Regions from separate parts of the Homo sapiens genome. Here region 1 is linked to region 2. The links come from fine-mapping of genetic effects on gene expression. A gene starts in region 2. The other region holds a variant in brackets. All regions are shown on one strand. Distances are between the middles of the regions.

Region 1 (16,781 bases), 27 kb before region 2:
ACCTTGTGATCTGCCAGCCTCGGCCTCCCAAAGTGCTGGAATTACAGGCGTGAGCCACCACGCCCGGCCTTATGGTATTATATTTTCTAAAGTAATAAAATGGGATCATACTCATGAAACATCAATGCTGTTTCTGAGTCAGCATCCTGTATTTGGGAAAGGACCAACTTCTTAGTTCCCTTGGGGTAAACTTCAGAGTTAAACACATAACAGGCACAAGCTCCTCCACAGGGTATTTAAATCCTGAACCAATACTCACAGGGACAGAGGCAGTTGGAGTTGAATCCTAAATGATTCAGTGGCAGCAGACTGAACAGAAGCTCTGTGAACTTCTGCAGCTGAGATCCCCAAACAAGATCAAAACCTGTTTTCCCATTGTTTTCAGCTTCTAGAAGCTACTAGTACCCTTCTTATATGCATTGTTTTCTTATTTAAGCTAGACAGAGTATATATCTGCTGTGTGAAGTAAAAGAACCCTGATAGTGTTATAGTACCACTACTACGAACAACATCAGCCAATAATCATGTATTTACATGCCAGGTACTATTCTAAGATTTTTTCTTATCTCATTTAATCCTCACAATGATCCTGCAAGGTAAATACTACTATGTATTAACCCATTTCAGAGTTGAAAAAACTGAGGTCCAGGCAGATTAAGTAATGTGCTCATACTCACAGCTACTGGTTATAGAGTTAGGATTTGAACTCAGGCTGATAGATCCAATAATTTAGTCCTAAATTATAAAACCTCCTATCAAGCTGCTTTATTACCTGATTTCTTCACAATCATCTCCTACATTGGAATATTTAGGTTGTTTCATGCTTTTTACTATCGTAAGTAAGGCCAGAAAACACTGTCACCGTCCTTTTAGTTTAATTTGAGGGCACATCTTAATTTACACACAGATTAAATTTCTGGCATGGATTTGCCAGGTCAAAGGATATGTGATTTTTTTTTTCATTCTTCATTCTTGATTATGTATTGCAGAATGAGGGCATTTGTTTTCAAAGCTTGGTAAGAAATAAAAAAGGAAACAAAGTTGGCTTTTTTTGTGAAGCACTGTCTCTGCCTTCAGGCATTCATGTGTGTTTACGTGCTTAGAATGGAGACAATCTGCTCGGCTAAGAAAGAAAGAAGATCCTGTTTTAAATGTTAATTGATGTAGGATAATAGGATTTCCCAATCAATAACAAATACACTTCAAGCCTAGGGCTTAAGGATTTCTTGAGTCCAGACATTTATTACGTCACATTTCCTGAGGCAATCCTAAACTCCATTCACTCCATTCAGAGTTAGTGATTGTTTTGTTTCGTTCTGTTTTATTTATTTATTTTTTTAAAAAGGTAAATTATAATCAAGGACAGTTCTCTAACTTTTGAAATTTTTGCTCTGTATTGAGTGCTTCAAAACTCAGAGCTCACATTGTTTGAGATACCAATTAAGTCAACAAAATGATGAAATTATTAGTGTGTTGCTTTTGTGAGATCAGGACTATTTCTATTTTCAGAAGGTTATTCCAATGTGATGACTTCTTGGGAAGATCACATTATCTACTTGTATGCTCTGTAAATATTGAAATACTCTCTGAGTACAAAATAAAATTTCAGACGACCTAACACCATGCTAACCTTGGAGGCGACACCATTTCTTGTAAGCAGGAAGCTCTAGAGAAATGATGGCATAAGAAGTCACCCACTTATAATGGTCAGGTGGAAAGAGCAACTACCTTAGCAAGAACGTTCTGCCCAGTGAGTGCTATGTCCTTGCAGTCACGGACAGCAAACTGGCCTTGTTGACATTTTGGGGGAGACTGTATAACTGAAGGCAGGAAAGTAAGAATAGTCTAAGATTCTTCGTGGACTGAAATTTTAGTATCTAGGAAAAACTAATTCCTCAACTTTTATCTACTCAAACAACACATGATTTTTTTAAATATTTTAATCATAAAACTAGTATTAGGACAAAGAACAACATACTAGCACAGGCCTTTTGAGTGACTGCAGCAGAGCCTACTGAGCCATCACTGACAATGATTATTTTGCAGGGTCAGATAAGAAAGTTGAAAGGGAAACCACCAGTAAACATTCAATAAACACAATAAAGAGCAGCCCAGTGAAGAAAGAGCTATCAGATACACAAAACTAAGGAATATGAAGATAAAATGAAGCACCCCAGAAAGTTCAGGGCAACAGAAATAATAAAAATGATCATTATTATCATTAAACCAGTTGGTTGAGGTTTCAACCCTGAGGTCAAAGACCCTCAGGCCCCAACCCCCAAAATGAATCAGGACATGTTACACATTATTCATGCTAACTAGCTCGATTGTCATGTTTCATCTTATTTGGCAATCCCCCAGTCCAACTCAGCTCTTGAAAGGAAGAAGGGACAAAGTCACTGCACACAGTGCAGCATTTGTCTCTCACGAGAAGCCCTTCCCAGCAAACTCGTGAGACTAGAGAGGCTCTTGTTGTTGCTCTCATACAGAGGTACACAGCATTCAAATTTGGTGAACCCACAGAATTCAGTAAGTTAAGAGTCTCACGCTACAATGAACTCGTTATACTTTCCTTGAAGATTTAGGAACTCACCTAGGGCATGGCTACAACTCCGACAGGATTCTGTTAGACTGACAATTATTTGCTGCAGGTCGGCTCTGGGGGGAGTGGGTGAGGGGTTAGGGTTTTTCCAGCCATTACATTTACAAGACTCCTCGGCCTAAAAATGGAATAAAGAAAGAGACAAAATTATTTAACAGGCAGCCGTGGACTGATGGTTTTACATGAGAACAATGTACACTAATTATATGACAGCTATCCCCTCACCCCTGACTTTGTCGTCTGCCATATACACAAGAGAAAAACAGAAAACCCAAAGGTGGTATTTGATTTGAGTGCTTTGCTTTTTGTTTTCTTTTGTTGTCTGCTGGCTGGAATCTGCATGCTACAGCTCACGCAGCTGACCCACACACTTTGCTACCATTGCCCCCAGTGGGTGTCCATGAAGTGGTGAGTTCCAAGAAAGTCCATCTCAAAAGATGGACATTCCAAATCCACAAGCCAGACTCCTGATGTCCCACAAACACAGCTAAGGTCTAGGCTAAGGTTGAGCCTTGCAGGTTCCAAGGCACCAGCTGCATCTCTGCCCCATGGACCAGAAGGGAAACCCATAGAACCGAAGAAGTTAGCAATCTTAGGAAGATGAGACGGGGCACACCCAGCTGAAGGCACACTTGCAGGCTCCTCCAAGACTTCTGTGAGCTCCCAGCTTTAGAAATGAAGAGGGCTTCATCATGTAGTCCTGGGTTTCTACTTACACGTACATTTCCCAGGTTTCCTGTACTAGAACACCATTATTTTAGCAACACTTGATAGAAAGCTTCCTTAACTTTGTCCACATACTCTTCACACTTCCCTATGTTTGTAGCCAAGAGTGAACATGATGTAGCCTTCTTTAAGTGATCTGACCTATGAAATGGAAGGCAAGCATGAAAAATTATCAATTATTCTACCAGGTACCACACTGTATGCTTCAGCAGGTCTCAACGTATGAAAGGTTCATACCTTTCATTTGTGCTTGCAATGAATGACCTCAGCCACTTATAAAAATAATTCTTCTGCCCCTTCTCTACTATTCTTAGCACTCTGTCACTCTCACCATTTATTTACTGCTTCAAGTCAGCTGTGGCTGGGAAACCAGAAGATACATTGTTAGAATAACATGTAACACAGATGAAGTCACTCTAGGGTAGAGCCATCTACATATACTATCCAGTACGGTAGCCTCTGGCCACATGTGGCTATTGAGCACTAGAAATCCAGCTAGTTCAAATCAAAGTGCACTGTAGTTGCAAAATATACAGATTTAGAAGACTAGCGCAAAATATAAAATACATCATTAACAATGTTTATATTACATATTGAAATTATATGTTTAAATGTATTATTTTGGATATATGGGTTAAAGAAAAGATATTATTAATATTGACTTATTTTTACTTTTGTAATACAGTTATCCAAACTTTTTGGTTTTTTTTTTTTTATATACAGAGTCTCTCTGTGTTGCCCAGGCTGGAGTGCAGTGGCAAGATCTTGTCTCACTGCATCCTCCACCTCTCAGGTTCAAGTGATTCTTGTGCCTCAGCCTCCTGAGTAGCTGGGGTTACTGGCATGCACCACCACACCCAGCTAATTTTTGTATTTTTAGTGGAGGCAGGGTTTCACCATGTTGCCAAGGCTGGTCTCGACCTCCTGACCTCAGGTGATCCGCCCACCTTGGCCTCCCAAAGTGCAGGTATTACAGGCGTGCGCCACCGTGACCAGCAGCATAAGTCTAATTTGAAGAAAATTGTCAGAGTGGCTGCTGCTTTGACCTCATACATAAAATTCTCCAGGACAGAGATCATTTCTGAAGTGTGTATATATGTGTAACAGTATAAGAAAAGAGAGGCCGGGCACGGTGGGTCACGCCTGTAATCCCAGCACTTTGGGAGGCCGAGGTGGGCGGATCACGAGGTCAGGAGATCGAGATTACCCTGGCTAACATGGTGAAACCCCATCTCTACTAAAAATACAAAAAATTAGCCGGGCGTGGTGGCAGGCGCCTGTAGTCCCAGCTACTCAGGAGGCTGAGGCAGGAGAATGGCGTGAACCTGGGAGGCGAAGCTTGCAGTGAGCCGAGATTGCACAACTGCACTCCAGCCTGGGTACAGAGCGAGACTCCATCTCAAAAAAAAAAAAAAGAAAGAAAGAAAGAAAAGAGAATAAACGATTGGCAAGGTAAGAAGGGTCATGGTAGAAGAAAAATCTGCCTTTGAATGAGTCCTTTTCAGTGGGCCATGTGAATCTGGAATACCTAACCTGACTGCTTTTCCCATTTTGTATTAATGAGGATGGAGAAGGCAGGGCCAGGAGAAGCACCTACATCAGCATCCCCATAGCTACATCCCCCAGTGAGTAGCTCAAGTGACCGTCTTTTGTCTAGGCATCAGGAAGGCCCAACTCTTACCCCCAGAGTTCTCTGTTGCCAGGCTGAACCTGGCCTTGAAATTCTCTGTAATGAACCATCCACCTCTTCAGAGGTTGCAAAGATCTCAGAGGCCATGTTCTTGAAGGAAATTGTCATGAGAATTTACAATGAAGACAGTGAATAGGAGAATATGGCAAACCGAAATATACAACTTTGGCCTAAGGGTTATTAAAATGCAGATACAAGAAAAGCTTGGCCGGGCGCAGTGGCTCACACCTGTTATTCCAGCACTTTGGGAGGCCAAGGCGGGTGGATCATGAGGTCAGGAGTTCAAGACCATCCTGGCCAGTCTTGAATGGTGAAACCCCGTCTCTACTAAAAATACAAAAATTAGCCGGGTATGGTGGCAGCCACCTGTAATCCCAACTACTCAGGAGGCTGAGGCAGGAGAATCACTTGAACCCGGGCGGCAGAGGTTGCCGTGAGCTGAGATTGCGCCATTGCACTCCAGCCTGAGCGACAGAGTGAGACTCTGTCTCAAAAAAAAAAAAAAGAAAAGAAAAGAAAAGAAAAAGAAAAGCTCTCTGCCCTCCCCTATATCCCCAGAAGCAGGACATAAATTCTTAAAGGTATCCCCACTTCCCTCTCTAACAAGAAGGACAGAAGTTGATCTTGGAGACAACTCTTGACCTTTATCAGCCCAGATAGGGTACCAGGGGAATCTACATAACAAACCTTGCTAAAACCAGCCCTGATCTACCATTGGTTTCCCCACATACTTGCCTTCCCACAATCTGCTGTCCCTAGCAGCTCAAGGTCCTTTTCCTTTGTCTTCTCACTTCTCTAAAAATTTACTAGTCTTTGCTGAGATAGCCTATAAGCCCAAGTTCTAACTACCTCCTTGAGTTACTCTTCACTGGGTGCTCTCATGTTCATACGCAATGAATATGTCAATAAACTTGTTTTTGTTTTTCTCTTGTTAATGTATTCTGTTAGTCTGACTGACAGGGCCCCAACCAATGCACCTAAAATGGTAAAGGGAAAACAGCTTTCTTCCCCTACAAAAGTATCACTAAGATTTTGTAGAGTCAGAGGAAACCACCCTTATTGTGGGCCAACCTCTCTTAGTTGCCGCATAGCTACTTCCAGGAACTCCCTAAGCCTCCAGCTTTTCTGAATAGTTGGTCTGATCCACAGCCCTTTCCCAAAGGACCTTAAGTTAGAGAAAGAAAAATGACTAAATGGCCCCAACAAAGCAATTAAATATGGCAGGCCAAACCTAGAAGGAAAAAACAGTAATAACCAAAAACACCTTGAGTTTGGAGAACAGCATTTCAAGCCAAGCAGTTATGCACACTGACTCATTCTTTCAACAATATTTATTGAGGCCTACTACATGCCAGGTACTATTGACTATGAAACAAAGATTCTGCTCTCCTGGAGATTACATTAGGGGTAGCCGGGGATGGGGAAAACAAGATTAACACAAATGAGTAAATTATAGAATATACTGGAGAATGTGATGGTGCTATGGAAAGAAAGAAAAAAGGATGAGTACAGGGAACTTAGCAGAGGGTGGGATAAAAGGTATAATTTTAACTAGGACTTTTTGAGATGACCTTAGAGCAAAGACTTGAAGAAAGGTGGGAGTTGGTCATTAGGTATCTAGTATAAGGGAAACACAGCTAGCGCAAAGGCAAGAGAGTGCCTGGCTTGCTCAACAGAAAGTAAAGGCCAATGTGGCTACAGCGCAGTGGGTAAAGACGTGTTGAAATTAAACCAGACAGGGTCAAGCACAGTGGCTCACACCTATAATTGCAGCACTTTGGGAGGCCGAGGCAGGCGGATCACCTGAGGTCAGGAGTTCGAGACCAACCTGGCCAACATGGTGAAATCCCATCTCTACTAAAAATACAAAAATTAGTCGGCATGGTGGTGCACACCTGTAATCCCAGCTACTCAGATGGCTGAGGCAGCAGAATCGCTTGAACCCGGGAGGCAGAGGTTGCAGTGAGCCAAGATTGCGCCACTGCAGTCCAGCCTGGGTGACAGAGTAAGACCTTGCCTCAAAAACAAAAAAAAAAGAAAGAAAGAAAAAAGAAATGAAATTAAGCCAGACGGGACAGGCACAGGTAATCCTAGAACTTTGGGAGGTTAAGGCAGGCAGATCACCTGAGGTCAGGAGTTCGAGACCAGCCTGGCCAACATGGCAAGACCCCATCTCTATTAAAAATACAAAAATTAGCCAGGTGTGGTGGTGGGCACCTGTAATCCCAGCTACTTGGGAGGCTGAGGCAGGAGAATCGCTTGAACCTGGGAGGCAGAGGTTGCAGTGAGCCAAGATCGCACCACTGCACTCCAGCCTGGGTGACAGAGTGAGACCCTGTCTCAGAAGTTTAAAAAAATATAAAAAAATAAATAAAGAAAGAATTCAAGGATCTAAAACTTTTCTTCCTATGGGCTTGCTTATAAAACTCTGCCTTGCCCTGAGATGCATGCTAACAAGTAACAAGCTTTAAATTCTTGGAGAAGACAACACAGAGTTTTAGAGATATAGATCTTAACTTCATTGTTGCAACAGACTAAGTTCAGTCAGCCCAGAAAAAAAGTTTATTTATGCCCCTTCTTGTCTTAACATGACAGAGAATAATGGCTGTGTTCACTGGGGGCTCATAAATGGGTGAGTCACAAATCTCATGGCAGGGAGATCTGTAATAATAAGGTCTTATATTTCCCCTACTCAATAAAAAAAAAAAGTTACATCTTGAATATTAACCGCACGTGTTGAAACCACTTGTGATAGAGTGCTTAATGAATTCTACCATACAATAAACACTGATGCTTAAAAATGTAACTGAATAAAGATCTTTTCTTTCAAAACTGGCTGATTTTACTTCCTCCACTGAGTCTTGGGATCCCAGTACAAAGTA[T/G]ATTTTTATTTCTTTTGTTCATAATGACTGAGACTTCCCAAACAAATTAAAATTCCCTGAAAACTAAGAGGAATGAAGAGAGGGAGACAACATGGGGTGAAACACTGAGAAGCATAAAAGTTTTGTCAGCCCCGCAGCACTCCAACTGTGCTGTCCAAGATGTGGCAGCCAGCCACAAGCGAATACGGAGTCTTTAAAAATTGGCAATAAAAATTGAGATGTGTTATGAGTGTTTGAAAATACACCCTGAATTTCAAAGACTTCGTATTAAAAAATGTTAAAATATCACATTAAGAATTATTTTATATTGATTACATATTATAATAATATTTTGAAATATTCAGTTAAAGTAAAAATTAGAATTAATAAAATTAAATTTTTGGCTTTTCTGATTTTTTTTTTTTAATGCGGTGCAGTGGGTTAAATAGTGTGTGCCCTAAAGTTCATGTCCCAGCCAGGTGCGGTGGCTCATGCCTGTAATCCCAGCACTTTGGGATGCCGAGGTGGGAGGATCACACATGAGGTCAGGAGTTCGAGACCAGCCTGGCCAACATGGTGAAACCCTGTCTCTAATAAAAACACAAAAATTAGCCAGGCATAGTGACACATGCCTGTAATCCCAGCTACTCGGGAAGCTGAGGCAGGAGAATTGCTTGAACCCAGGAGGCCAAAGTTGCAGTAAGCTGAGATGGCACCACTGCACTCCAGCTAGGTGACAGAGTGAGACTGTCTCAAATAATAATAATAAATAAAGTTCATGTTCCCCTGGAACCTCAAAATGGGGCCATATTTGGAAATAGGTTCATTGCAGATGTGATCAGTTAAGGACATGCAGATGAAATTATCCTAAGCCCTAAAACCAATGACTGGCGTTTTCCTAAGAGAAAGAAGAAGGAGATTTGGAGACAGACACAGACAAACAGTAAAGAAGGCCAAGTGAAGATAGAAGCAGAGGCTGGATCTCACTATGAGACAGACCAGGGTCTCACTATAAGCCAAAGAATGCCAAGGATTGCCAAGCACCACCAGATGCTAGGAAGAGGCAAGGAAAGATTCTTCCCTACAGCCTTCAAAAGGAGTGTGGCCCAGATGACATCTTGATCTCAGACTTCTAGCCTCCAAAACTGTGAATAAAAAAAAAACTGTATTTGTTGTTTTAAGCCACATATTTTGTGGTTATTTGTTATGACAGGCCTAAGAAACTAATACACAGGACTACTAGAAAATGTTAAATAATACATGCGGCCTCCATATTACTATTGGATATTGGTGCACTAGACTATAAAGGGACTCCACCCCCAAGCCCCAGGTCTTCACTATGGACCCTAACAGTTTAAGCATAGAATAGTCTCAGCATCCCTAAGTGGTCCTAACTCTTTAAAGTTATACCCTATTGATATATATGAGAATCCCTTGAGTTTTCCTTACTTGTTTCAGTATTTTTTGCAGGATATGAAAATTGGTTCTTGCATGTGTGCATGCTCCATGGGACACCTAACAACCTAAGTGTACAAAATTTTTAATATATATGGGACTCGTTACTTGATTTGCTAAAAAGGACATACTGTGTCCTTTAAAAAACAGTCAATGCTCTTATCCTTGACTGCCAGCAAAGCATTTTCTGCCAAGTTTTCTGAGCTGCTGCTACCATGCCCTCCACTTTGGCCTTCATCTCCCCATTCCAATGTTCAGGCCTGGCCACTGTTCTTCGAGATAAGAGGTCTCCTTTCAAAACACCTTTCCCATGTCTCTCCTTAATTAGGCATGACAGCTGCTGTCTAAGGGAACTCCCAAGGGAGTTGGCCTTGCAGCTTTAATGAAGTACCAGCTGAAGGACAACCTTTTAGGGAGTGCACTGCCAAGCCAATTACTGTAGCAGCTAGCAACCTGGGCACAGGGAGGGGAAAGCTACCCAGATGACTTCATCCCCCCAAGAGCACATCTCTGCAGACATTGCAGAACCAAGAAAGAAGAAAAGGCCACTGCACTACTTTCAACAGGACTGGGATAATGTTTTCATCCCAACAGGATCCAGGGTTAGAGGTCAATAGTATGCAACCGATGTTGTTATAGTATGCAGAAACCAGGATGGATGATGAGAAAGAAGATAAACTGGATAAACAAGTAGTCACAACCCAGATTACAGACAGACAAGGGGTGGAGAGCTCACAGTTCACGCAGTGTTAATGAGTGAGATGGGTGTGAAGATATTTGAGTGGCATCCAGAGGAACAGGAGAAAGACAGCCAGCTGTCTAGCAAAATTCTGTCATGCTTAAAATATTGGAAAGTCGCATTTGTTGGAAAACTTAAATTAGTGTCAAGGATGTCCCACAGCAAGAACACGTTGATGGAAAATTTATTCAGTATAACTGATCCAACATTTATTTAGCACCCAAAATTAAAAATGTACATGTACTCTTATCTCACTCGATGTAAGTAAAGTATGAATTATTGCCATTATTAAAAGAGAAAGCTGAGGCTCTAGGTGATAAGAGACTTGCCTGGGGTTACTCATTCTACCCTGCAGATGCACAAAATGTGTCCAGGCAGGTAACTGGCACTGTGGTTGTGAGAGAGGAAGGACTCACTCTTATTCACTACCTCTCTGCTCCATGCTGGACAAAGTCATAATGTTTAAATGTCAAGGATCAAAACCGTAACTTCTCACCCAATAAGATCTCTCTAACCAAATATAGATAGGAGGAGTAAATTCTGGTGTTCTATCGCACAGCAGAGTGACTATAGTTAACAATAATATATTGCATATTACAAAATAGCTACAAGAGAGGATTTTGAATGTTCTCATCACAAAGAAATGACAAGTGATTGAGGTGATGAACATGCTAATTACACTGATTTGGCCATTACACAATGTATACATGTTTCAAAACACCACACTATGCCCCCATCAATATGTATAATTATTAGGTGTCAATTAAACACAAAATAAGTTCTTTTTTCAAAAGGAGCTGACAATAACAAATTATCAGGCATGTGAAAAATTGGAATCCTCATACAGTGTTTGTGGGATGTAACAAGGTACAACCACCTTGGAAAACAGTTTGCTAGCTTCTTATATACTAATGGAACAGAATAGATAGCCCAGAAATAAACCCTCACAGATAATGGTCAAATGATTTTGACAAGTGTGCCAAGACCATTCAATAGAGAAAGGACAGTCTTTTCAATAAATGGTGCTGGAAAAACTAGGTATCTGTGTGCACAAGAATGAAGCTGGACCCTTAGCTAATAACACACACACAAATGAACTCAAAATAGATGAAAGACTTCAACATAAAATTGTGAATCTCGGCCGGGCGTGGTGGCTCACGTCTGTAATCCCAGCACTTGGGGAGGCCGAAGCAGTTGGATCACGAGGTCAGGAGTTCAAGACCAGCCTGGCCAACATGGTGAAACCCTGTCACTACTAAAAATACAAAAATTAACCGGGCATGGTGGCTCACGTCTGTAATCCCAGCTACTTGGGAGGCTGAGGCAGGAGAATTGCTTGAACCTGGGAGGCAGAGGTTGCAGTGAGCTGAGATTGTGCCACTACATTCCAGCCTGGGCAACAGAGCAACCATCTCAAAAAAAAAAAAAAAAAAAAAAAAAAAAAAGAGGCCTACTCAGAAGTTGCTGTGAGGTGAGATCGCACCACTGCACTCCAGCCTGAGCAACAGGGCGAGACCCCATCTCAAAAGAAAAAAAAAGAAAGAAAGAAAGAATCTCTTAAAAGAAAATACAGAAAAAATCTTCATGATACTAGATCAGGCAATGGTGTCTTGGATATAATACCAAAAGCACAGGCGGCCAGGTGTGGTGGCTCAGGTGTATAATCCCAGCACGCTGGGAAGGTCAGGAGTTCAAGACCAGCCTGAGCAACAAACAAGACTCCATCTCTACAAAAATTTTAAAAATTAGCTGGACATAGTGGTGCACGCCTGCAGTCACAGCCACTCAGAAGGCTGAGGCAGGCAGATCCCTTGAGCCTAGGAATTCGAGGCAGCAATGGGCCATGACTGTGCCACTGTACTCCAGCCTGGGAAACAGAGCAAGATACTGTCTAAAAATAAATAACAAAAACACAGGCAACAAAAGAAAAACAGATAAACTGGAATTAGGAAAAACTTTAAATTTCTGTGCACCAAAAGACATACACAACAGAGTGAAAAGGCAACCCAGAGAATGGGAGAAAATATTTGCAAACCATATATTTGATAACAGGTTAATATCCAAAATATATAAAGAATGCCTACAACTCAACAACAACAACAACAACGAAATTTTACAATGGGCAAAGGACTTGAGCAGACACTTCTCCAAAGAAAATATACAAATGGTCAATAAACACATGAAAAGATGCTCAACATCATTAATAATTATGAAAATGGGCCAGGCACGGTGACTCACGCCTGTAATCCCAATACTTTGAGAGGCTGAGGCAGGTGGATCACCTGAGCTCAGGAATGCAAGACCAGTCTGGCAAACAAGGCGAAACCCCGTCTCTACTAAAAACACAAAAATTGGCTGGGCGTGGCGGCGCATGCCTGTAATCCCAGCTACTCGGGAAGCTGAGGCAAGAGAATCGCTTGAACCCAGGAGGCAGACGTTACAATGAGCCGAGATCATGCCACTGCACTCCAGCCTGGGTGACAGAGCAAAACTACCTCTAATATATATATATATAAAATAAAATATATATAATTTCTATATATTATATATTATATATAATAATATATAATATATAATATATAATTTATTATGTTATATATAATATATTATAAATTATATATAAAATATATTATATATTATATTTTATACATAATAAATATTTTATATATATTATATTTTATATATTATATATTATATTTTATATATTATATATTATATATCATATTTTATATATTATATATTTTATATATATTTTTATATATAATATATTTTATATAAAATATATATATTTTATATATTATATATTATATATATTATATATTATATATTTTTATATATTATATATTTTATATATATATGTTTTATATAATATATATTATATGTTTTATATATAATATATATTATATGTTTTATATATAATATATATTATATGTTTTATATATAATATATATTATGTTTTATATATAATATATATTATATGTTTTATATATTATATGTTTTATATATAATATATATTATGTTTTATATATAATATATATTATGTTTTATATATGATATATAATACATATTTTATATATAATATATAATACATATTTTATACAAATATATTATATATTTTATGTATATTATATATATTTTATGTATATTATATATTATATACTTTATGTATAATATATAATATATAATATATTTTATGTATTATAAATTATATATTTTTATGTATAATATATTTTTTCATATATATTATTTTTTCATATATACGTATGAAAATACAAATTAAAACTACAATGAAATACCACCTCACTCCCATTAGCATGGCTACTACAAAAGAAACAGAAAACAGTGTTGGAGAGGATGTAGAGAAACTGGAAACCTTGAATATTCCTGCTGAAGACGTAAAATGGTATGGCTGCTATGGAAAACAGTATGACAGTTCCTCAAAATATTAGAAATGGAATTACTATATGACGCAGCAATTCCACTTCTGGGTATATACCCAAAAGAATTGAAAGTAGGAAGTCAAAGAAATATTTGGACACCCATGTCCTAGTATCATTATTAAGCACAACAGCAAGAAGGTCCAAGCAACCCCAGCATCCCTTAAGAGATGAATAAATAAGTAAAACGTAGTATATACATTCAAAGGGCTATTATATAACCTTAAAAAGAAAGGCAACTCTGACACATGCCACAACCTGAATGAAACTTGAGAATGTTATGCTAAGTAAAATAGTCACAAAATGACAAATACTGTATGATTCCACTTAGATAAGGTGTCTATGGTAGCCAAATTCATAGAGATAGGAATGGTGGTTGCCGAGGGGTTGGAGGAAGGAAGAGGGAGTTACTGTTTAATGAACACAGAGTTTCAGTTTTGCAAGCTGAAAAGTGTTCTGTGGATGAATGGTGGTGATGATTGCACAATAATGTGAATTTCTTAATACCAATGAACTAGACACTTAAAAATAGTTCAGATGGTAAACTTTAGATCATCTATATTTTACCACAGTTTTGTTGTTGTTGTTGTTGTTGTTGTTTTGAGACAGGGTCTCACTCTGTTGCCCAGGAGTGCAGTGGCATGATCATGGTTTATTACAACCTCAACCTCCTGGGTTCAAGCAATCCTCCAACTTCAGCCTCCTGAGTAGACAGGACCACAGGCATGTACCTCTACACCTGGATAATTTATTTTATTTTATTTTTTATTTTTATTTTTTGGTAGAGACAGGGTCTTACTATGTTACTCACGCTGGTCTCAAACTCCTGGACTCAAGGGATCTTCCCACCTCAGCCTCCCAAAGTACTAAGATTACAGGCCATGAGCTACCATGCCCAGCATTACCACAGTTTGTTGTTTGTGTGTTTGTTTGTTTGTTTTTAGACAGAGTTTCTCTCTTGTTGCCCAGGCTGGAGTGCAATGGCGTGATCTCAGCTCACTGCAACCTCCGCCTCCTGGGTTTAAGAGATTCTCCTGCCTCAGCCTCCCCAGTAGCTGGGATTACAGGCATGCACCACCATGCCCAGCTAATTTTGTATTTTTAGTAGAGACAGGGTTTCTCCCTGTTGGTCAGGTTGGTCTCAGACTCCCGACCTCAGGTGATCCGCCCGCCTTGGCCTCCCAAAGTACTGGGACTACAGGCGTGAGCCACCATGCCCAGCCCACAGTTTTTTAAGAAACAACAATTTTTTCAAAAAGTTAAACATAAATTTACCACATGACCCAGCAAATCCACTAAGTATCTACCCAAGAGAAACAGAAATATATCCATACTAAGACTTGCATGCAGATGCCTCAGCAACATTATTCATGATAGCCAAAAGGCAGAAATAATCTAAATGCCCATCAACTAGTTAACGCATAAGCAAAATGTGTTCTAGTCATATAACGGATTATTACTTGCAATGAAAGATAAAGAAGTGCTGACATATGCTACAACATGGATGTATCTCAAACACATTACACTCGGCATAAGAAGCCCATCATAAAAGGCCACATACTGTATACTTCCATTTACATGACCATCCAGAAAAGGCAAATTTATAGAGACAGAAAGATTAGTGGTCATCTGGGGTGGGGGGTAGGAACAGGGTTAACTGTAAATGGACCCAAGGATCCTTTGGAGGTGATGGAAATCTTCTAAAAGGTAGATTGTGGTGATGATTGTACAACTTGTCAATTTCTTAAAAATCATTGAATTGTACACTTAAAACTAGAGAATATTATGGTACCTAAATCATAACTCAGTAAAGTTTTTTTTGTTTTTGTTTTTGTTTTGAGATGGAGTCTCGCTCAGTCGCCCAGGCTGGAATGCAGTGGTACGATCTCGGCTCACCGCAAGCTCCACCTCCCAGGTTCACGCCATTCTCCTGCCTCAGCCTCCCAAGTAGCTGGGACTACAGGCGCCCGCCACCACACCTGGCTAATTTTTTGTATTTGTAGTAGAGGTGGGGTTTCACCGTGGTCTCGATCTCCTGACCTCGTGATCCACCTGCCTCGGCCTCCCAAAGTGCTGGGATTACAAGCGTGAGGCACCACGCCTGGCCTTTTTTTTTTTTTTTTTTTTTTTGAGACAGAGTCTCTGTCGCCCAGGCTGGAGTACAGTGGCATGATGATCTCAGCTCACTGCAACCTCCGCCTCCCAGGTTCAAGCGATTCTCCTGCCTCAGCCTCCCGAGTAGCTGGGACTACTAGACGCATGCCACCACGCCTGGCTAATTTTTGTATTTTTAGTAGAGACGGGGTTTCACCATGTTGGCCAGGCTGGTCTCGAACTCCCGACCTCAAGTGATCTGCCCACCTCAGCCTCCCAAAGTGCTGGGATTACAGGTGTGAGCCACATGCCCAGCAAGATATTTTAATAATATTTTTAAAAAACAACACCTGGAGTCCACTGTAAGCAGCTGGGATTGCCAGAAGTTTTCTCTTTGGAAATGAGCAGTTTGAATTATGCTGATGTAATTAGGAGTAGTGCTTCTCAAACTCCAATCTACTCAGGAATCACCTGGAGATCTCATCAAAATGAAGATTAAGATTCAGTGGGTGTCGGGTGGAACCTGAGATTCTACATTTCTAAAAGTTCCTGGGTGAAGACCACTCTTTGAGTAGCCAAGATTTGAAGAGATAAAGATGGTTTGACTTCAGCAACACCTTTCTCTTCTCCCTGAATTAACTTTAGCTTTTCATATACAGATTAAATGGTTCAGTAATCCTTCCCTGGGACACAAGCCCTTTTTCTTCCTCCACTGTGTGACAATCCTTCCAGTTCACACAGTTGTACATGGAAGGCCAGCAGAAGATACCATAATGCTATGACTTCAAGCTGGGATTTTTAAACTATGGGAACTTTAAAAATCTGACACAAGTGAAAAGAGGAAAGTATACAGGGTGGGGATCAGGGTTCCCTCAGGAGAACAAAACTGCCTGGGATTGAGATAGAAATAGAATTGTAAGAGAGAAAAGATAACTAGTGAGGTAATTCACTATCAGAAGCATCTCTGAAAACCTTTTTTTTTTTTTTTTTTTTTTGAGACAGAGTCTCGCTCGTTGCCCAGGCTACGGTGCAGTGGCGCAATCTCGGCTCACTGCAATGTCCGCCTCCCAGGTTCAAGCAATTCTCCTGCCTCAGCCTCCCGAGTAGCTGAGATTATTGCCCACCAACACACCCAGCTAATTTTTGTATTTTTAATAGAGACGGGGTTTCACCATGT
Region 2 (14,968 bases):
TACATTAACTCAAAAGCAGCATAGTTACAGTGGGCAAGTTTTATGATCTATAAATTATACCGCAATAAAGCTGTTTAAAATATATGCCCATGATTCACGAAGTGAGATTTTTCAGATTTTAAGTGTTAGTCATATTCATATTAAAAGCATTGGTTTAGGCTAGGCGTGGTGGTTCATGCCTGTAATCCCAGCACTTTGGAAGGCCAAGGCAGGCCAATTGCTTGAGCCCAGGAGTTCAAGACCAGCCTGTTAAACATGGCGAAACCCAGGTTGGCGAAACATCTCTATAAAAAATACAAAAATTAGCCGGCCATGGTGACGTGCGCCTGGCCAAGTAGCCTCCCAGCTACTTGGGAGACTAGGGTGGGAGGACCACCTGAGCCCACTGCACTCCAGCCTGGGAAGCAGAGTAAGACCCTGCCTCAAAAAAGCCTCAGAAAAAAAAAAGGGGGGGGCAAAACAAAAACCATTGATGTTTTTTCTTTCTGTGCTGCAAAGGTATTTGTCTAAAACAGGCTTTCTCAACTTCTGTTAATTCTATTAATATTTTGGACCAGATAATCATTCGTTGGGGGGAGTTGTCCTGTGCATTGTGGGATGTATAGCAACATTACTGGCCTCCACTCACTAGTTGCCAGTTGCATTCCCTCCTCCCAACTGCAAAGATTGAAAATGTCTCCAGACATTGTCAAATGTCCCTTGGGAGGTTAAATAGCTCCTGGGTGAGAGCCACTGCTCTAAATGCTGACAAATGAAAAAGACAATTTGCTCTCTGGGGGAGTGACTGACAAATACAAAGGTGTTGGGGGCGCTCTCCAACTATAAGGCTTGTTCTAGTGCCCCACCCACCAGCCCTTAGCCAACAGAGGATGCTTTTTGTTTTGTGGTGGCACATCTACCTCTGCTCTCTGTATATTCTACAACCAGTGCTACTTCTAGATTATAAATCATTATTATTATTATTTTGAGACAAGGTCTAGTGCAGTGGCATGATCTCAGCTCACTGTAACTTCTGCCTCCCAGGCTCAAGCCATCCTCCCACCTCAACCTCCTGAGTAGCTAGGGACTACAGGCACGCACCATCATGCCCGGCTAATTTTCGTAATTTTTGTAGAGACAGGGTTTCACCATGTTGCCCAGGCTGGTCTCGAACTCGTGAGCTCAAGTGATCCGTCTGCCTTGGCCACCCAAACTGCTGGGATTACAGGCACAAGCCACCATGCCCTGGGCCTATTTTTTCAATTAAGACTAATTTTATAGTCCTGTACCCATGAAACTCCTTAAATGTGGCACCTTGCCGAGAACCCAAGCAACTGGGTTCTCCATAAATGCTTTGTGGCCACTGACTCTGATATACGAGTAAAGCACCAGGCAATTCCGTTTATTTAGCCAGCATTAACCTAGCATCTTTATGTTCTAGGAATTCTGGGGACACTTTTTTCTTTTAACTTTAAGGTTGAAGTCATGATCACCACTTTATACATGCAGTCATTGAGGCTCAGAGAAAAACTAAGTGACCTGTGCCTAAGATCACACAAGTGGCAGAGCTGGGGTGGATTCAGGACTGAGTCTGTTGCTCTTACTTGACTTTCAAGTTAACAGCGTCTCCCCTACCTTCTGAGGGCTTGCCATGGGCAAGACACCATGCTGGATGTCTAATACAGCCCATTTTAAATCCTCACTGTTATGCCATGAGGCGGGTAACATCATTCCTTTACAGACAGGGAAATAAAGGCTTAAATGAAATCCTTATCCAAGGTTGCAGAGCTGGATATCCCAAAATTTGAATTCAGATTAGCCTGAACTCTGAAGCCCATGTTCTTAGCCACTATACCCTATTGCCTCCTCTTACGTATTAATATAAATGGCCTGCTCCTTTAGGAAGGGTTAGTCAATGGGTTTTGTTTCTCTTTTGAAGTTAGTAGATGATATACTTTAATTCAAGAAGATTTGGATTTGGCCTACTCATACATTCACTTGGGGTTTCTTTTATAACATTAAAAACCCAATCCCAAGCAGGCATGGTGGTGCAGGCCTATAGTCCCAGCTACCCAAGAGGCTGAGGTGGGAGGATCACCTGAGTCAAGGAGTTCAAGGCTGCAGTGAGCTATGATCGTGCCAGTGTACCCCATCCTGGGCAACAGAGCAAGACCCTGTCTCTAAAATAAATAAATAAATAAATAAATAAATAAATAAATAAATAAATAAATAGGCCAGGTGCAGTGGCTCACACCTGTAATCCCAGCGCTTTGGGAGGTGGAGGCAGGCAGATTGCTTGAGCCCAGGAGTTGGAAACCAGCCTGGCAAACATGGCGAAACCCCATCTCTACCAAAAAAAATACAAAAATTAGCCAAGTATGGTGGTGCATGCCTGTGGTCTCAGCTACTCAGGAGGCTAAGGTGGAAGGATCACTTGAGCCTGGGAGGTACAGGTTGCAGTGAGCCAAGATCACGCCACTGTACTCCTGCCAGGGTGACAGAGCGAGACCCTGTCTCAAAAAAATAAATAAATAAATAACCCAATCCTATCAATATCTGTGGGACACCTAGAACTGTCCTATATGACAAATCTCTACTTAGTTGTCAAGAAGTGATTAAGTTAAAATTCCACAACTGCTAACATCACAGCTAATCATTTCTTCCATTTTCTCTTCTCTGGTTCATTCGCTTAGTCAATAACCGCATGGCTAAGAATCTATTCAAAGATTCTAAATGCACATCAAATAATCATACAAATCATAAAAATCATAATATAAGCACCAGGAAGAGTACAGATGAATTTGGATAATTTCTAATGGGAAGGCTGCTCAGGGGGGTAAAGGAAAGGCAAGGAATCTGAGTTCTATAGGAAGGGTTGGGAGTTAATTTTAAAATGTGGAAAGAAGAGCTTCCAGTCCCAGTGAACAGCATGTGCAAAGCCCCTCACCCCACCTCACCCCCGACTAGGTGAAAGGAAACCATGTGCCTGAACCCTCGATAAGGAGCCACAGATAGCAGTAGCCAGGCCATGCAGGGCCTTGTGGACCACAATAAAGAGAAATTAAAGGGCCTGAAGTGTGGGTATAACATGGTCAGATCTACTTTATTTTATTTATTTATTTATTTTTTTTTTTAGGGAGAATCTTGCTCTGTCACCCAGGCTGGAGTACAGCGGTGCAATCACAGCTCACTGCAACCTCTGCCACCACGCCTGGTTAATTTTTTATTTTTTGTAGAGACGAAGTCTCACTATATTGCCCAGGATGGCCTCAAATTCCTGGACTCAAGTGATCCTCCCGCCTCGGCCTCCCAAAGTGCTGGGATTACAGGTCTGAGCCACTGCGCCTGGCCTAGATCTACATTTTTAATGAACACAGAACCAAAATGACTCTGAAGCAACCTTTACCAGGACACAGTTCAAAGATCTGGATCCTGCGAAACAAGTTTGTTTGTTTCTTTTCTTTTTTCTTTTTTTTTTTTCTTTTTCTATTCTCTGGGGTGTGGCACGTCACCCTGGCTGACTTAGCTCCCTTCTTTTTTGGTTTCGTTTGTGAAGTTTAAAGGCCAGATTTATATCAGGCCTGGGACCTGTTTTTCTTTCAAAAGCCCCCCAGTGAACTACCTTATCTCTTTCTAGATCCCTCCTCATTCTCTAATCTCTCTAATCTAACTTGCCAAGGGGCCTGTGGCAAAGGTAGAGCAATCTGTCCTTTTGGGCTTGCTCATATTAAGTGCAGAAACAAGCTGAGAGAGAACCACAGATTTTGCTCTCTTACACTCCCTCGTACCCAATCAAGTCCAGTTAAATTTTTTTTTTTTTTAAAAAAAGCAAATCTGAGATAATGTCACTCTCCAGGTTAAGATTCCTGCACTCCTCAGTGCCCTCTTGGCCACGCACCCCAGCCGGTGGCCCTAGGCAACAAAGGTCTGGCTCAGTTGGCCCACCTCCAAGCTTCCACAACTGCTTTCAGTTTCTCCACTACAAGAAGCTTCACCCCACCCCACTCTGCCCTGCCAAGAGTTCTTAGCAGCCACTGACACTTCCTCCAGGAAGCCAATCCCACCCTACCAGTGCCCCAGTCTATGAACTGTCCTGCTCTGGGTCCGCAACTACTCCAAGAAAGTAGTTTTTCTGAACTTCTCTGTAATTTTGGTTCACTGCCCTCATCCCTAGGCCCCCAACACATGCATACACACACATGCACTTGTGCACACACACAATAAGTAACTCCTGAAGGACAAATTCTGTGTGTCATAGGCCCAGCACCTAGCCCAATGCCTGACACCCAGTTGGTAACCCTCTAAATATTTACTGAATGAATGGATACATAAAAATGAACACTTTCAGCCAGGCATGGTGGCCCATGCCTATAATCTCAGCACTTTGGGAAGCAAGGCGGGCAAATTGCTTGGGCTCAGGAGTTTGAGAACAGCCTGGGCAACAAGGTGAAACCCTATCTCTACAAAGAATACAAATAATAATAATAATAGTGTACTGGCGCATGCCTGTAGTCCCAGCTACTCAAGAGGCTGATGTAGGAGGATCACCTGAGCCCAGGGAGGTTGAGTCTGCAGTGAGCTACGATCATGCCACTGCACTCCAGCCTACGTGGCAGAGTGAGACCCTGTCTCAAAAAAAAAAAAAGACGTTAAAATAAATTTTCTCTTTCTCTTGTTGGGTCATGAAAGTGACCAGGAAACACTCAAATCCCACTTGGAAGTGGTGCTACATCTCACCCATGGAAATTTGAAAAGATCAAAAATATCAATGCAGGCCACATATGCTCATGGTTTTAGACAAAACCAAAACTTCAGGAAAGTTTTCAGATATTAAAGCTACAGCAGGCAGCAGGAAGTCTTTAAGAGGTGCTGGTGATGAGAACCCAATAAATAAATTTTAAAATAAAGCCAGAACAGAAACACTGAGTTGAGACAGTTCCTGCATGAGCCCACTTTGGCTGCGAAACGCCAAGGCCACCAAGTAATTGACCTTGCTCTTTTTTTTCATAGGTTTTTGTGGAACAGGTGGTGTTTGATTACATAAGTTCTTTAATGGTGATTTGTGAGATTTTGGTGTAGTCATCACCCAAGCAGTATGCCCTGTACCCATGACCTTGTTCTTAATTCTGTACATAGCTCGCCCTTCTGCCTACTACAGTCGGTGTCCTGTTCTCATTCGTCTAATGCCCTTCATGATCAACTCCTGGGCTTGCACCTTTCTTAGAAGCACACTCCCCACTTCATCTTTTTTGCATTCCTTCTTCAGAAATAACCACATAGCATTATTATTTGTTTCTGTCTTTTCTGCTAAAATCAAAGGGGACAAATAATATATTGTCCAGGTCTGAATTGGAATGTGGTCTGTGGACTAGCATAGCATCACTTGGGAGTTTGTCAGAAATGCAAACTCTCAGCTTCCACCTCAGACCACCTGATTCATAATCAGCATTTTAACCAGCTTCCCCAGGAGATTCCCATGCACATTAAAGTTTGAGGAGCACTGGGCTAGATCCTACATTCACTCAACAAATATTTATTGAACCAGTGTAGGATACAGAGGTGCTTAACATAAACCTGAGCATATGGTGTGGAAAAAGAGCAAGCATAGACATTCCATTGTGACTGAGAAGCTCCTGCAAGTACCAAGAAGAGTATAACCTAGATGTTCTAGTAGAATAAATTATAGTTATGTCAAAATTCAGAAGTGGTCACTGCAGCTTGGTTGTGACAATCGGGAATCTGGAATCTGGGAACTTGACCCTCTTTACAGCAGGCAGGAAGAATACAGGGAGGTGTGAGTGTGTGTGAGTGTGTCTCTTCCCTGCCTCAGCCACAGGCCGCAGGAGCTGACAAGGCCAAGTCCCCGCCCCCCTCAGCTGTCACCCTGTCAAAACAAAGCCGCTGCTGACAGCGCAGGGCCAGCCTGCCCCGCGGCCTCGGGCAATCCTCCCACCTCGGGAACACAGCCTCCACATCTGGATCTGCAGCTGGAGGTGACAGGGTGCCTAAACTGGCATGGAGAGTGGGTAGCAAGAAATGGGTGTCCTCAAACTGAGCAGTAGCGCCCGCCGCGCTGGGCTGTCACTTTGCCAAATCCTGTTTACACCTCGAGCAGCTGGGACAGCGTTTTAACTAAACAAGTAATAATACAATAATGACAGGGCTGTCACCGCGCGCGGCAGTGCCTCCGCCCCCAGCCGAGGGCGCCAGGCACCACAAGACCCTCGCCTCGGACTCTGCCCACCTTCCCACCCCGCGCTTTCCTCCCCTTCGCTTTCCCAAAGCGCCAGGAGTCCGGGAGTCTTCTCCACCCCCACTCCTTGCACCCAGTTCCTCCCAGTGGGACACAGGAAGGGATCGATTGCAGAAGGGACCACTCAGTCCCCCAAAAGATTTTTCCTTGCCCCTGGGTCACCCGCCACATGGAGAGCACCGCTCCACTCCCGGGAAAGTGACTCCAGCGAGCTCCTACAGAGCAACAAAACCCCAAGGTAGCCCGGGAGCTCGGATGCCGAAGCTACTCCTTTCAAGCGGAAGGAATGAAGGGCTCTCCGTCTTAGTGATCCCCCTTCTTCAAACCCAGCAGGACTCTTATCCAAGAAGAAGCTAATTGGGCGCGGGCGACAAGAGCACTTCCGCGGTGCAGCGGCCCCAGGCGGGAGGCGAGAGGCAGGAGGCGGGAGGCGGAGGTGGAAGCGGGAGGGGGAGGGGGGTCCCGCGGGCTGGGCCCCTAGCACCCATCCGCGGTCCGAGAGCGGCGAGCGCGTACCTTGCAGGCGGAGTACACTCCGAGTTTCTCCAGTTTCTTGGCCCGCGGAGCGGAGCGTAGTTGCGCTTTCTTCACGGCGATTCGGGCCGAGCCACCGCCTCCCGGTCCTTCGGCCGTGCCCGCTGCAGCCACTGCCGTCGCCGGACCGCAGGCGCCCGAGCCCCCGGCGGCAGCGGCGCAGGGGGAGCCCTGCGGGGGCGCGGGCGGAAGCGCCGCAGGCTGCGGGGGCAGCGCCCCGGGCCCGGCCCCTGCCCCGGCTCCTGCCCCGCAGCCGCCCGGCCCGGCCCCGCCAGCCTCGGACATGCCGCCCCGGAGCACGGCAGGAGGCGCCGAGTGTCAGGCGCCGCCGCCGCCGCCAGGGTCTCCCTCTCGGGCTCTGGTAGTCGGGAGAGCGAGACCCTCCCCCCACGCCCTCCCGCCCCCTTCGCCCACCCCCCTCCCCGCCCCCGCCCTCCCCCTAGCGCGCCGCTCGCCCGGCTCGCTCTGGCCGGGCCCCGCGCGCTGATGGTGGTGGCGGCGGCGGCAGCGGCGGCAGCTGCTCCCCCAGGAGGGAGGGGACTAGCGGCTCCGCTGCCGCTGCCGCCGCCGCCACAGCACACGCCCTCCCTTGGTTCTCCTGCCCGGGACTCTGCTCCGCGCCCTGGCTGCGGACATGTTCCTCGGGACTGCGGACTAGGTGTGCGTGCCGGCGGCTGCCAGCCTCACGGTGTCTGCCAGCGCTGGGAGGCCCCCCACGGCCTCTTTTCCGCTGCCCGCGGGGTTTGCACCCCCCACCCCAGTGCTTCGACACCTACCGCTCGCCCGCCAGGGGGCGAGGCCAATCCCTGGGTGTGGGTGAGGGTGGGGACGAGGGTGGGGGTAGGGGCCTGGAGCCCAGGCACCTGCTGGCCACCTCCCCCCTCCGCGGCCCCCCATCCGACCCCCGCACGCCTGCACCAGTGGGAGGGGGCAGCCTCTCAATCATTTGTCCTTTCACTCTCTTCCACCCTGTCTCTGACAGAGAGACAACTTCCTCCACCCTAGCGGGAGCCAGAGGAAAAAAAATATATTTTTGAAAAGTACCCGTCCATGCTAATCTTTTTCTTTGTTGCTAATTCACCAAAATAAAGACGTGATGTTCTCCCTTTCTCTTTTTAAATACTTTCTGTCAAACTATTTTTTAATATAATTAACACTTTCTTCCCATAGCAATTTCTGGGTCAAATCTGCCGGAGGAGGGGAAAAAAACTTACTATTCTCTGTAATTTTTGTTTGAAAGTGCTGGTTGCTAAAAGAAAGATTGTCTAAAAAGCATTGTCAAAAACTATGCAGTGGAAAAAGTTTGAATACAAAAAGTTTGTTAACAGGATTCGTTTCTGGGTGGTGGTTCTATAACGTTACGTAGTTTTCAAAATTGTGCCACCGCGTGCGTATTAACCAGGAAAAAGATATAAGCATAATTCAAAAGAATAAATATCGATTTTGGCCTCAAACTTTAAAAAGAAAAAAAAAACCCTCAACTCAGTGTTTCCAACTCTTGTTGAAAACTGTTGTTTTCACTGTTGATGACTGTGGAGCATACAAGTCAGTGCTGCGTTTGAAAGTGGTGTACCGTTGATCGCCTTCTTAAGCAGGTTTTAAAAGCCCAGGGCTTTTTCTCAGGACCCTTCAGAAGTGCCCTACTTTTTGTTATATGCAATGTGGGTCATAATGTGCTTATTATCAGATTTTATGCATGCTGTATAGCTCTCAGGCCAGACGCTTTAAGGGGTGTGCTTTTCGTGGGAAACATTCCCCTTCTTCTTTTTCCAGATTCTCTGTGTTATTTTGACTTGTAATGCAGGTTAATATATAAACATTGGGAGGTGGGGGAGTTTGTAGATCTAAACAGTGATATTAGCTTAGACAGGGCAAAAGGCAATATTCTCTCCCAACTTGAGTCCAGTCTTGAGGGGATGAAATGGCAGATTCTTATCAGGTTCCATTCAGGACAATTAATTTCAGTGCTTCCTTTCTTAGCTTGACGTGCTTCACGTTACCAGTGTTACTCTCTCCTGGCTCTGCTGAGATGTTTCGCAGATTTTTGCCATTCTCCGCAAAGCAGGGTGAGAGTCTTAAAGGCTGTGCTTCTCTGATCAACCTCTAACATGGATTTAACAGATACTAATAAGAGCTTGGGTTCCACCTTGCAGGCATTTGTCAAACTGATGGAATGATCCACTTGAGATCTGTACATTTCACTGGATATAAATGTTGCCTCAAAAATTTTTAAAAAAAGAAAAATCACAAGCATTGAACTCTAATGGTGCTCTTTGTACTTTGAGATACATCAAAAATAAGATGTATGGATGCCTCCATGCATGGGTAAAGGGTGGATGAACAGAGATATGATAAAGCAAATAGGGGTCCATATAATAGAGTCTAGGTAATGGGCACAGTGCGCAATTCTTTCAACTTTTCTGTATGTTTGAAAATTTTCACAGTGACAATTGGGGGAGGGAACCCAGATTTAACATTAAGTCACCTATCAACTCCTCCTCCCAAGCGTCCCTCAGAATTCAGGAGGCAGACAATTTCCAGGATGTTTTGAAGCAGAAGTAGCCAATCTCCTTTCAATCCACTCTGAAAACCATCACTGTCTGAGTGGCGAATGGCTTGTGCCATTAACTGAACATTATTTTTCATTATTTCCCTGCTCAGAGTACCCAGATGACATACTGCCTTAGGCTGAAGGCCCGTGGTTTCAAGACCTATTCAAAGTGTGTTATGAGCACCAGGCAAGGAAATTTCAAGGGCAAAGGATTCAGGAGGCTTATTGCTTTTCCATAATTAGGTTGTTGTAAGCATTCAGTGTGCTCTTTCTGTGCACACAGTACTTTTAAGAAATAACTACCAAGAAAATAAAAGGCAATGTTTTCATTTACAAAGTATTTACCACTTACTGAGGTAAAGAAGCTACATTCAGAAAATAAAAGCTTGGAGAGTGGGCATGGTAGAGGCAGGCTGACCACTGGAGGTTACTTGTGGTATATTCACACAACAGAATATTTTATACCTGTTATACACAATGACCTTTATAAAAATATAATAACATAGATCTCTAAGAAACACTGTTGAATAAATCTCAGTGCAGCATAATACCATTTATGTTAAAAACAAACTCACATTGACATATAAGCACAATTTTGTATATGTTCAATAAATGCATGGGAAATTCAAAAGTAAGGGAAAGATTTAAAAAGGTACATAGCAATAAAATAAAATTTCAACTTCAGAACACGAGATTATATAACAAGAAGTTGATAAGGTCCACCCCTTCCCATTCTCCCTGGTGCTGCAGTATACTTCAGCCAAACTCAGGAAATGCTTTCCTACCTCAGGGCCTTTGCATTTGCTGTACTATGTGGATACCCTCCACCAAACAGCATGGCTAACCCTATTCATCTGGTATTCCTTGCTCAGAGATGCCTTCCTAAAAAAGGCAAGTTTTGTGGCCATCTATTGTTATATCATCTAGCAGAGTTTCTTGCCATATTCCTTCCTACCAAGGCTATACAGCTTCTGTAATGTACCAGTAACCCTGAATCCCACAGATGGATTGAAATTATCCCCAGTAAAGGCACAGACTGTAAGGGTACAGATCAAGTGGTCAAAGTGCAGGTTTGGCCCAGTACATGGACCATGACTGACATTCTTCCCAGACACCTGCTTTTAGAAACAGCAGTTGGATATGAGTGTAAAATAAAGAGACATGTCAATGCCTAAGTGGGGCTCCTTGGGCCAACCTTCCTCTGAGGGAAGTGGCTATAATTACTGAACATTTATTTTAAATTAAATAAAATAAATCCTCCTAGGAAAAAAGTTTTGAAAATAATAAATGAATCCTAGGATGAGGAAACATAAAATCCCCTTCCCTAGTTTTCAAGCATTTATGAATTAAATCATTTCCAGTGTGAATCTTAACCATGCCCCAAATACCATTAGTGCTTTCTTTTTTTTTTGAGACAGAGCCTCGCTTTGTCGCCTGGGCTGGAGTGCAGTGGCGCTATCTCGGCTCACTGCAACCTCCATCTCCTGGGTTCAAGCGATTCTCCTGCCTCAGCCTCCCGAGTAGCTGGAATTACAGGCGCCCACCATCACGCCCAGCTGATTTTTTATATTTTTGGTAGAGATAGGATTTCACCATGTTGGCCAGGCTGGTCTCGAACCCCTGACCTCGTGATTCACCCGCCTTGGCCTCCTAAAGTGTTGAGATTACAGGCGTGAGCCACCATGCCCAGCGCCATTAGTGCTATTTTATTCAACCTTTTTTTTTTTCTTTTTGAGGCAGGGTCTAGCTCTGTCACCCAAGCTGGAGTGCTGTGTTATGATCAAGGCACACTGCAGCCTCGACCTCCTGGGCTCAAGTAATCCTCCTACCTGAGCCTCCCAAGTAGCTGGGACTACAGACATGTGCCACCACACTCGGCTACTTTTTTTTTTTTTTCCAATTTTTATTAGAAACAAGGTCTCAATATGTTGCCCAGACTGGTCTCTCACTCCTGGCCTCAGCAGTCTTCCTGCCTGGGCCTCCCAAAGTGTTGGGATTACAGCCATGAGCCACTGCACTACCCAACCTTATTTATTTTAATTCTTAGTTATCCTTAGTAACAATCTTCTATTATTAATATGAATAGACCTAAGTATATTTGGCTAAGCCTTGCCCTTGTAAAGACAGAGGGGTTTTTTTATATTGCTTTCTGTTTTAAATATTAACGCATACTTATTTCACCAGTTTACTTACCATTTACAATGAAAGTACAATGTAAGTAAAAGAAATAAAGTCGGCTTTCTTCTGAATTCAGGCTAAATGACTTTCTACTTTTCCAAAGCAGCACATGAGAATTTATTGTTTCAAGCACCTTGAAAATTATATAAGGAAATCAAATTTCCAAAGAACCGACTTTGGTGTGACCTAGATTTTCTGGAATGATATGAACATCATAAATTGTATTCCTGTTAGTGCCAGATAATTGTTTAAAATAAACCTGAGGGATTCTAATTCCCTAAATATATAAAAACATTCATATATATAGTTTCACAAATTAGGGAAAAAATCTTTCTCAAAACAGGTTTTCTAATTTAGGGTCCCCTTATAAGGGAAGCCTTTAGTATAAAAGGCTTCAATTCCTTAATCCTAATTCCTGATTGGCTGAGCACACTGCCACTGACCTTTTAAGCCTAAAATCAAAGCACAGAGTAGTGTGTTCCAATGTATAAAATAGGTGCTATACATCAGCAAATGCTTTGGCTAAGAAAAACAAAGAAAAATGACGATTGTTCAGTATAGTAACATTATATCCCTTCAAAACCACAATAGTTTTATATTGTTATAAAATATTTCAAACATATTGAAAAATAAAGTAATATATTTGTATATTCACCAACCAGATTTTTAATGTTTTCATTTTCCATAAACATATATAATAAATATGTAATTAAAGACTGCTCTTTTATATCTCTCTTTATCTCATTTCCCAATTGCCTGCCCACCCCAGAAGTAAATATGTACGGAAGTGTATCTTTGGTCATGTTTTTTGATGTTTGCAAAATAAACCCATGGAGAAGGATCAAGTGAACTTTCACCGTTAAAGGCTAGATGAAGATATTTGAGGCTTTGTGGGACGCGGTCTCTCACAACTACTCAACTCTGCCAGGGTCTCATTTCTAGGAAAGGACATGTGTTTATCCTACATAGTTAAAAATCAAGCAAGATGTTAGTATAGAAGTACTCACCAAATGCTCCCATCTTTTTTGTTATTGTCTATAATTTTTTATCTACATTTTTATGACACAAACTGACTTCTGATTTTACCACAGTATATAAGTTTGCTAGGGCTTCCATAAGAAAGTACCACAGATTGGGTGGCTTAAACACAGAAATTTATTTCTTCAGAATTCTGGAGGCTAAAAACCCAAGATCAAGGTGACAGCAAGATTGGTTTCTTCTGAGGCCTCTCTCCTTGGCTTGTGGATGGTGGTTTTTCTCCGGTGTTTTCATGTGATCTTCTCTCTGTGTGTTTCTGTGTTCTCATCTCTTCTTCTAGGGATGCTAGTCATATGGGATTAGGGCCCACCTTAATGACCTCATTTAACCTTAACTACCTCTTTAAAGACAATCTCAAAATACAGTCACATTCTGAAGTACTAGGGATTAGAATTTCAATATATGAATTTTGGAGGGACACAATTCAGCCCACAACATGCAATCAATAGATCATTAACATTTCCAATGTATTTTAATGATTCCCATGCTCAATATACTCCTTCACTCTACATTGGCTTTTTTTCTTGCTAAACACATCCTTCAGCAGTTCTTTCCGGAAGGATCTAAACCACTACTTAGCTAGTCTTCTACTCAGGGAAGGCCTTAATCTGTAGTAGTTGAAACACCTGCCAACAAATGTGCATTATATTTGGCTAGGTTGAGTTTAATATTTTTATTAGCTTGTAAAGAAAAATGACATCTTCTACTCCAAATAGCATTTGACATCAATTTTTTAAAATAAGCTTTTATGCATTTTTTCACACTGAAAGAAAAACGAAAGAAACAAAAGGAGACAAAGCCCAATATATATGTGTCTTCAGCTGTTTTTGTCTTTCTGTTCTGGAATATTTATTCTATTTTTTCAGCAAGTTTTTTTTTTTTTTTAAGATAATATGAGCCTGGGCAATATAGCAAGACCTGGTCTCTACAAAAAATAAAAAAGCTACCTGAGAATGGGGGCACATACCTGTAGTCCCAGCTACTTGGGGGGTTAGGCAGGAAGATGGCTTGAACCCAAAAGTTCCAGGTTGCAGTGAGCTATCCTCCAGTGTGGGAGGATAGAGTGAAACCTTATTTCTAAAATAAGCAAATAAATAAAATAAAAGACAATATGCTTTAGTTAAGTACACTAATTTTAATTGTTCAGCTCAGTGAATTTTTATATATGGATACACTTGATTCCTCACCAGCCAGATCAATATATATAGAACATCCCCAGTGCTAGAAAGGCTTCCTGGCTGGGCACAGTGGCCCACACCTGTAATCCAGCACTTTGAGGGGCCAAGGCGGGCAGATCACTTGAGGTCAGGAGTTCGAGACCAGCATGGCCAAAATGGCAAAACCCGTCTCTACTGAAAACACAAAAAATTAGCTAGGCGTGGTGGCATGCGCCTATAATCCCAGCTACCTGGGAGGCTGAGGCAGGAGAATCGCTTGAAACCGGGAGGCATATGTTGCAGTGAGCCCATATCACGCCACTGCACTCCGGCATGGGCAACAGAGCAAGACTCCGTCTCAAAAAAAAAAAAAAAGACTTCCTTTTGCCCCCTTCTAATCAACATCCTAAGACAATTGCTATTCTGGCTTATATAGTCTTGCCTATTCATAAAATTCATATAAAAATAACACAGCATGGACTCTTGTTGTTGGGCTCCTTTTTATTTTATTTATTTATTTATTTATTTAGATGGAGTTTTGCTCTTGTTGCCCAGGCTGGAGTACAGCGGCGCAATCTCAGCTCTCTGCTACCTCCGCCTCCCAGGTTCAAGCAATTCTCCTGTCTCAGCCTCCCAAGTAGCTGGGATTATAGGTGCCTGCCACCATGCCTGGCTAATTTTTTTTTTTTTTTTTTTTTTTTTTTTGTATTTTTAGTAGACACAGGGTTTCACCATGTTGGCCAGGCTGGTCTTGAACTCCTCACCTCAGGTGATCCACCCACCTCGGCCTCCCAAAGTGCTGGGATTACAGGCGTGAGCCACCACTCCTGGCCTCCTTTTTAAAGATATTATGTTTATAAAGTCCATCCTGCTGTTCCATGTAGCCATGTCACTTTTTTTGTTTGTTTGCTTGTTTGTTAGATTTTGAAACAGCATCTCACACTGTTGCTTAGGTTGGATCGCCAAGATTGGAGTGCAGTAGTGCAATCATGGCTTACTCCACCCTTAATATCCAGGGCTCAACCAGTCCTCCCACCTCAACCTCCTAAGTAGCTGGGGCTACCTGGAGGCGCTACTACACCTGACTAATTTTTATTTTTTGTAGAGACAAGGTTTCACCATGTTGACCAGGCTAGTCTTGAACTCTTGGGCTCAAGTGATCTGCCTACATCGGCCTCCCAAAGTGCTCACCTTATAGGCATGAGCCACCATGCCTGGCCTCATGTCACTTTTTTAAATTGCCATATAGTATTCCACTGTATGACTCTACCACAATTT

Evidence for each region.
Region 1: its variant is fine-mapped to the expression of KAT2B in tibial nerve (GTEx, PIP above 0.99).

The regions. Positions count from the first base shown.
Region 1 is chr3:20,058,272-20,075,052 of GRCh38, reverse strand. KAT2B (lysine acetyltransferase 2B) reads right to left here. Exons shown (of 18, transcript NM_003884.5): 2 at 2,594-2,720. Among named protein-coding and RNA genes, the nearest start is that of KAT2B, 26 kb to the right of the region's middle. RefSeq lists an enhancer at 15,971-16,140. The variant T/G (reference allele first, on the strand shown) is at 7,901.
Region 2 is chr3:20,032,561-20,047,528 of GRCh38, reverse strand. KAT2B (lysine acetyltransferase 2B) reads right to left here and starts at 7,083. Exons shown (of 18, transcript NM_003884.5): 1 at 6,749-7,083. The coding sequence starts at 7,051. RefSeq lists enhancers at 3,811-3,970, 4,051-4,220, 5,582-5,771, 6,488-7,458 and silencers at 6,622-6,681, 6,882-7,011, 7,182-7,821.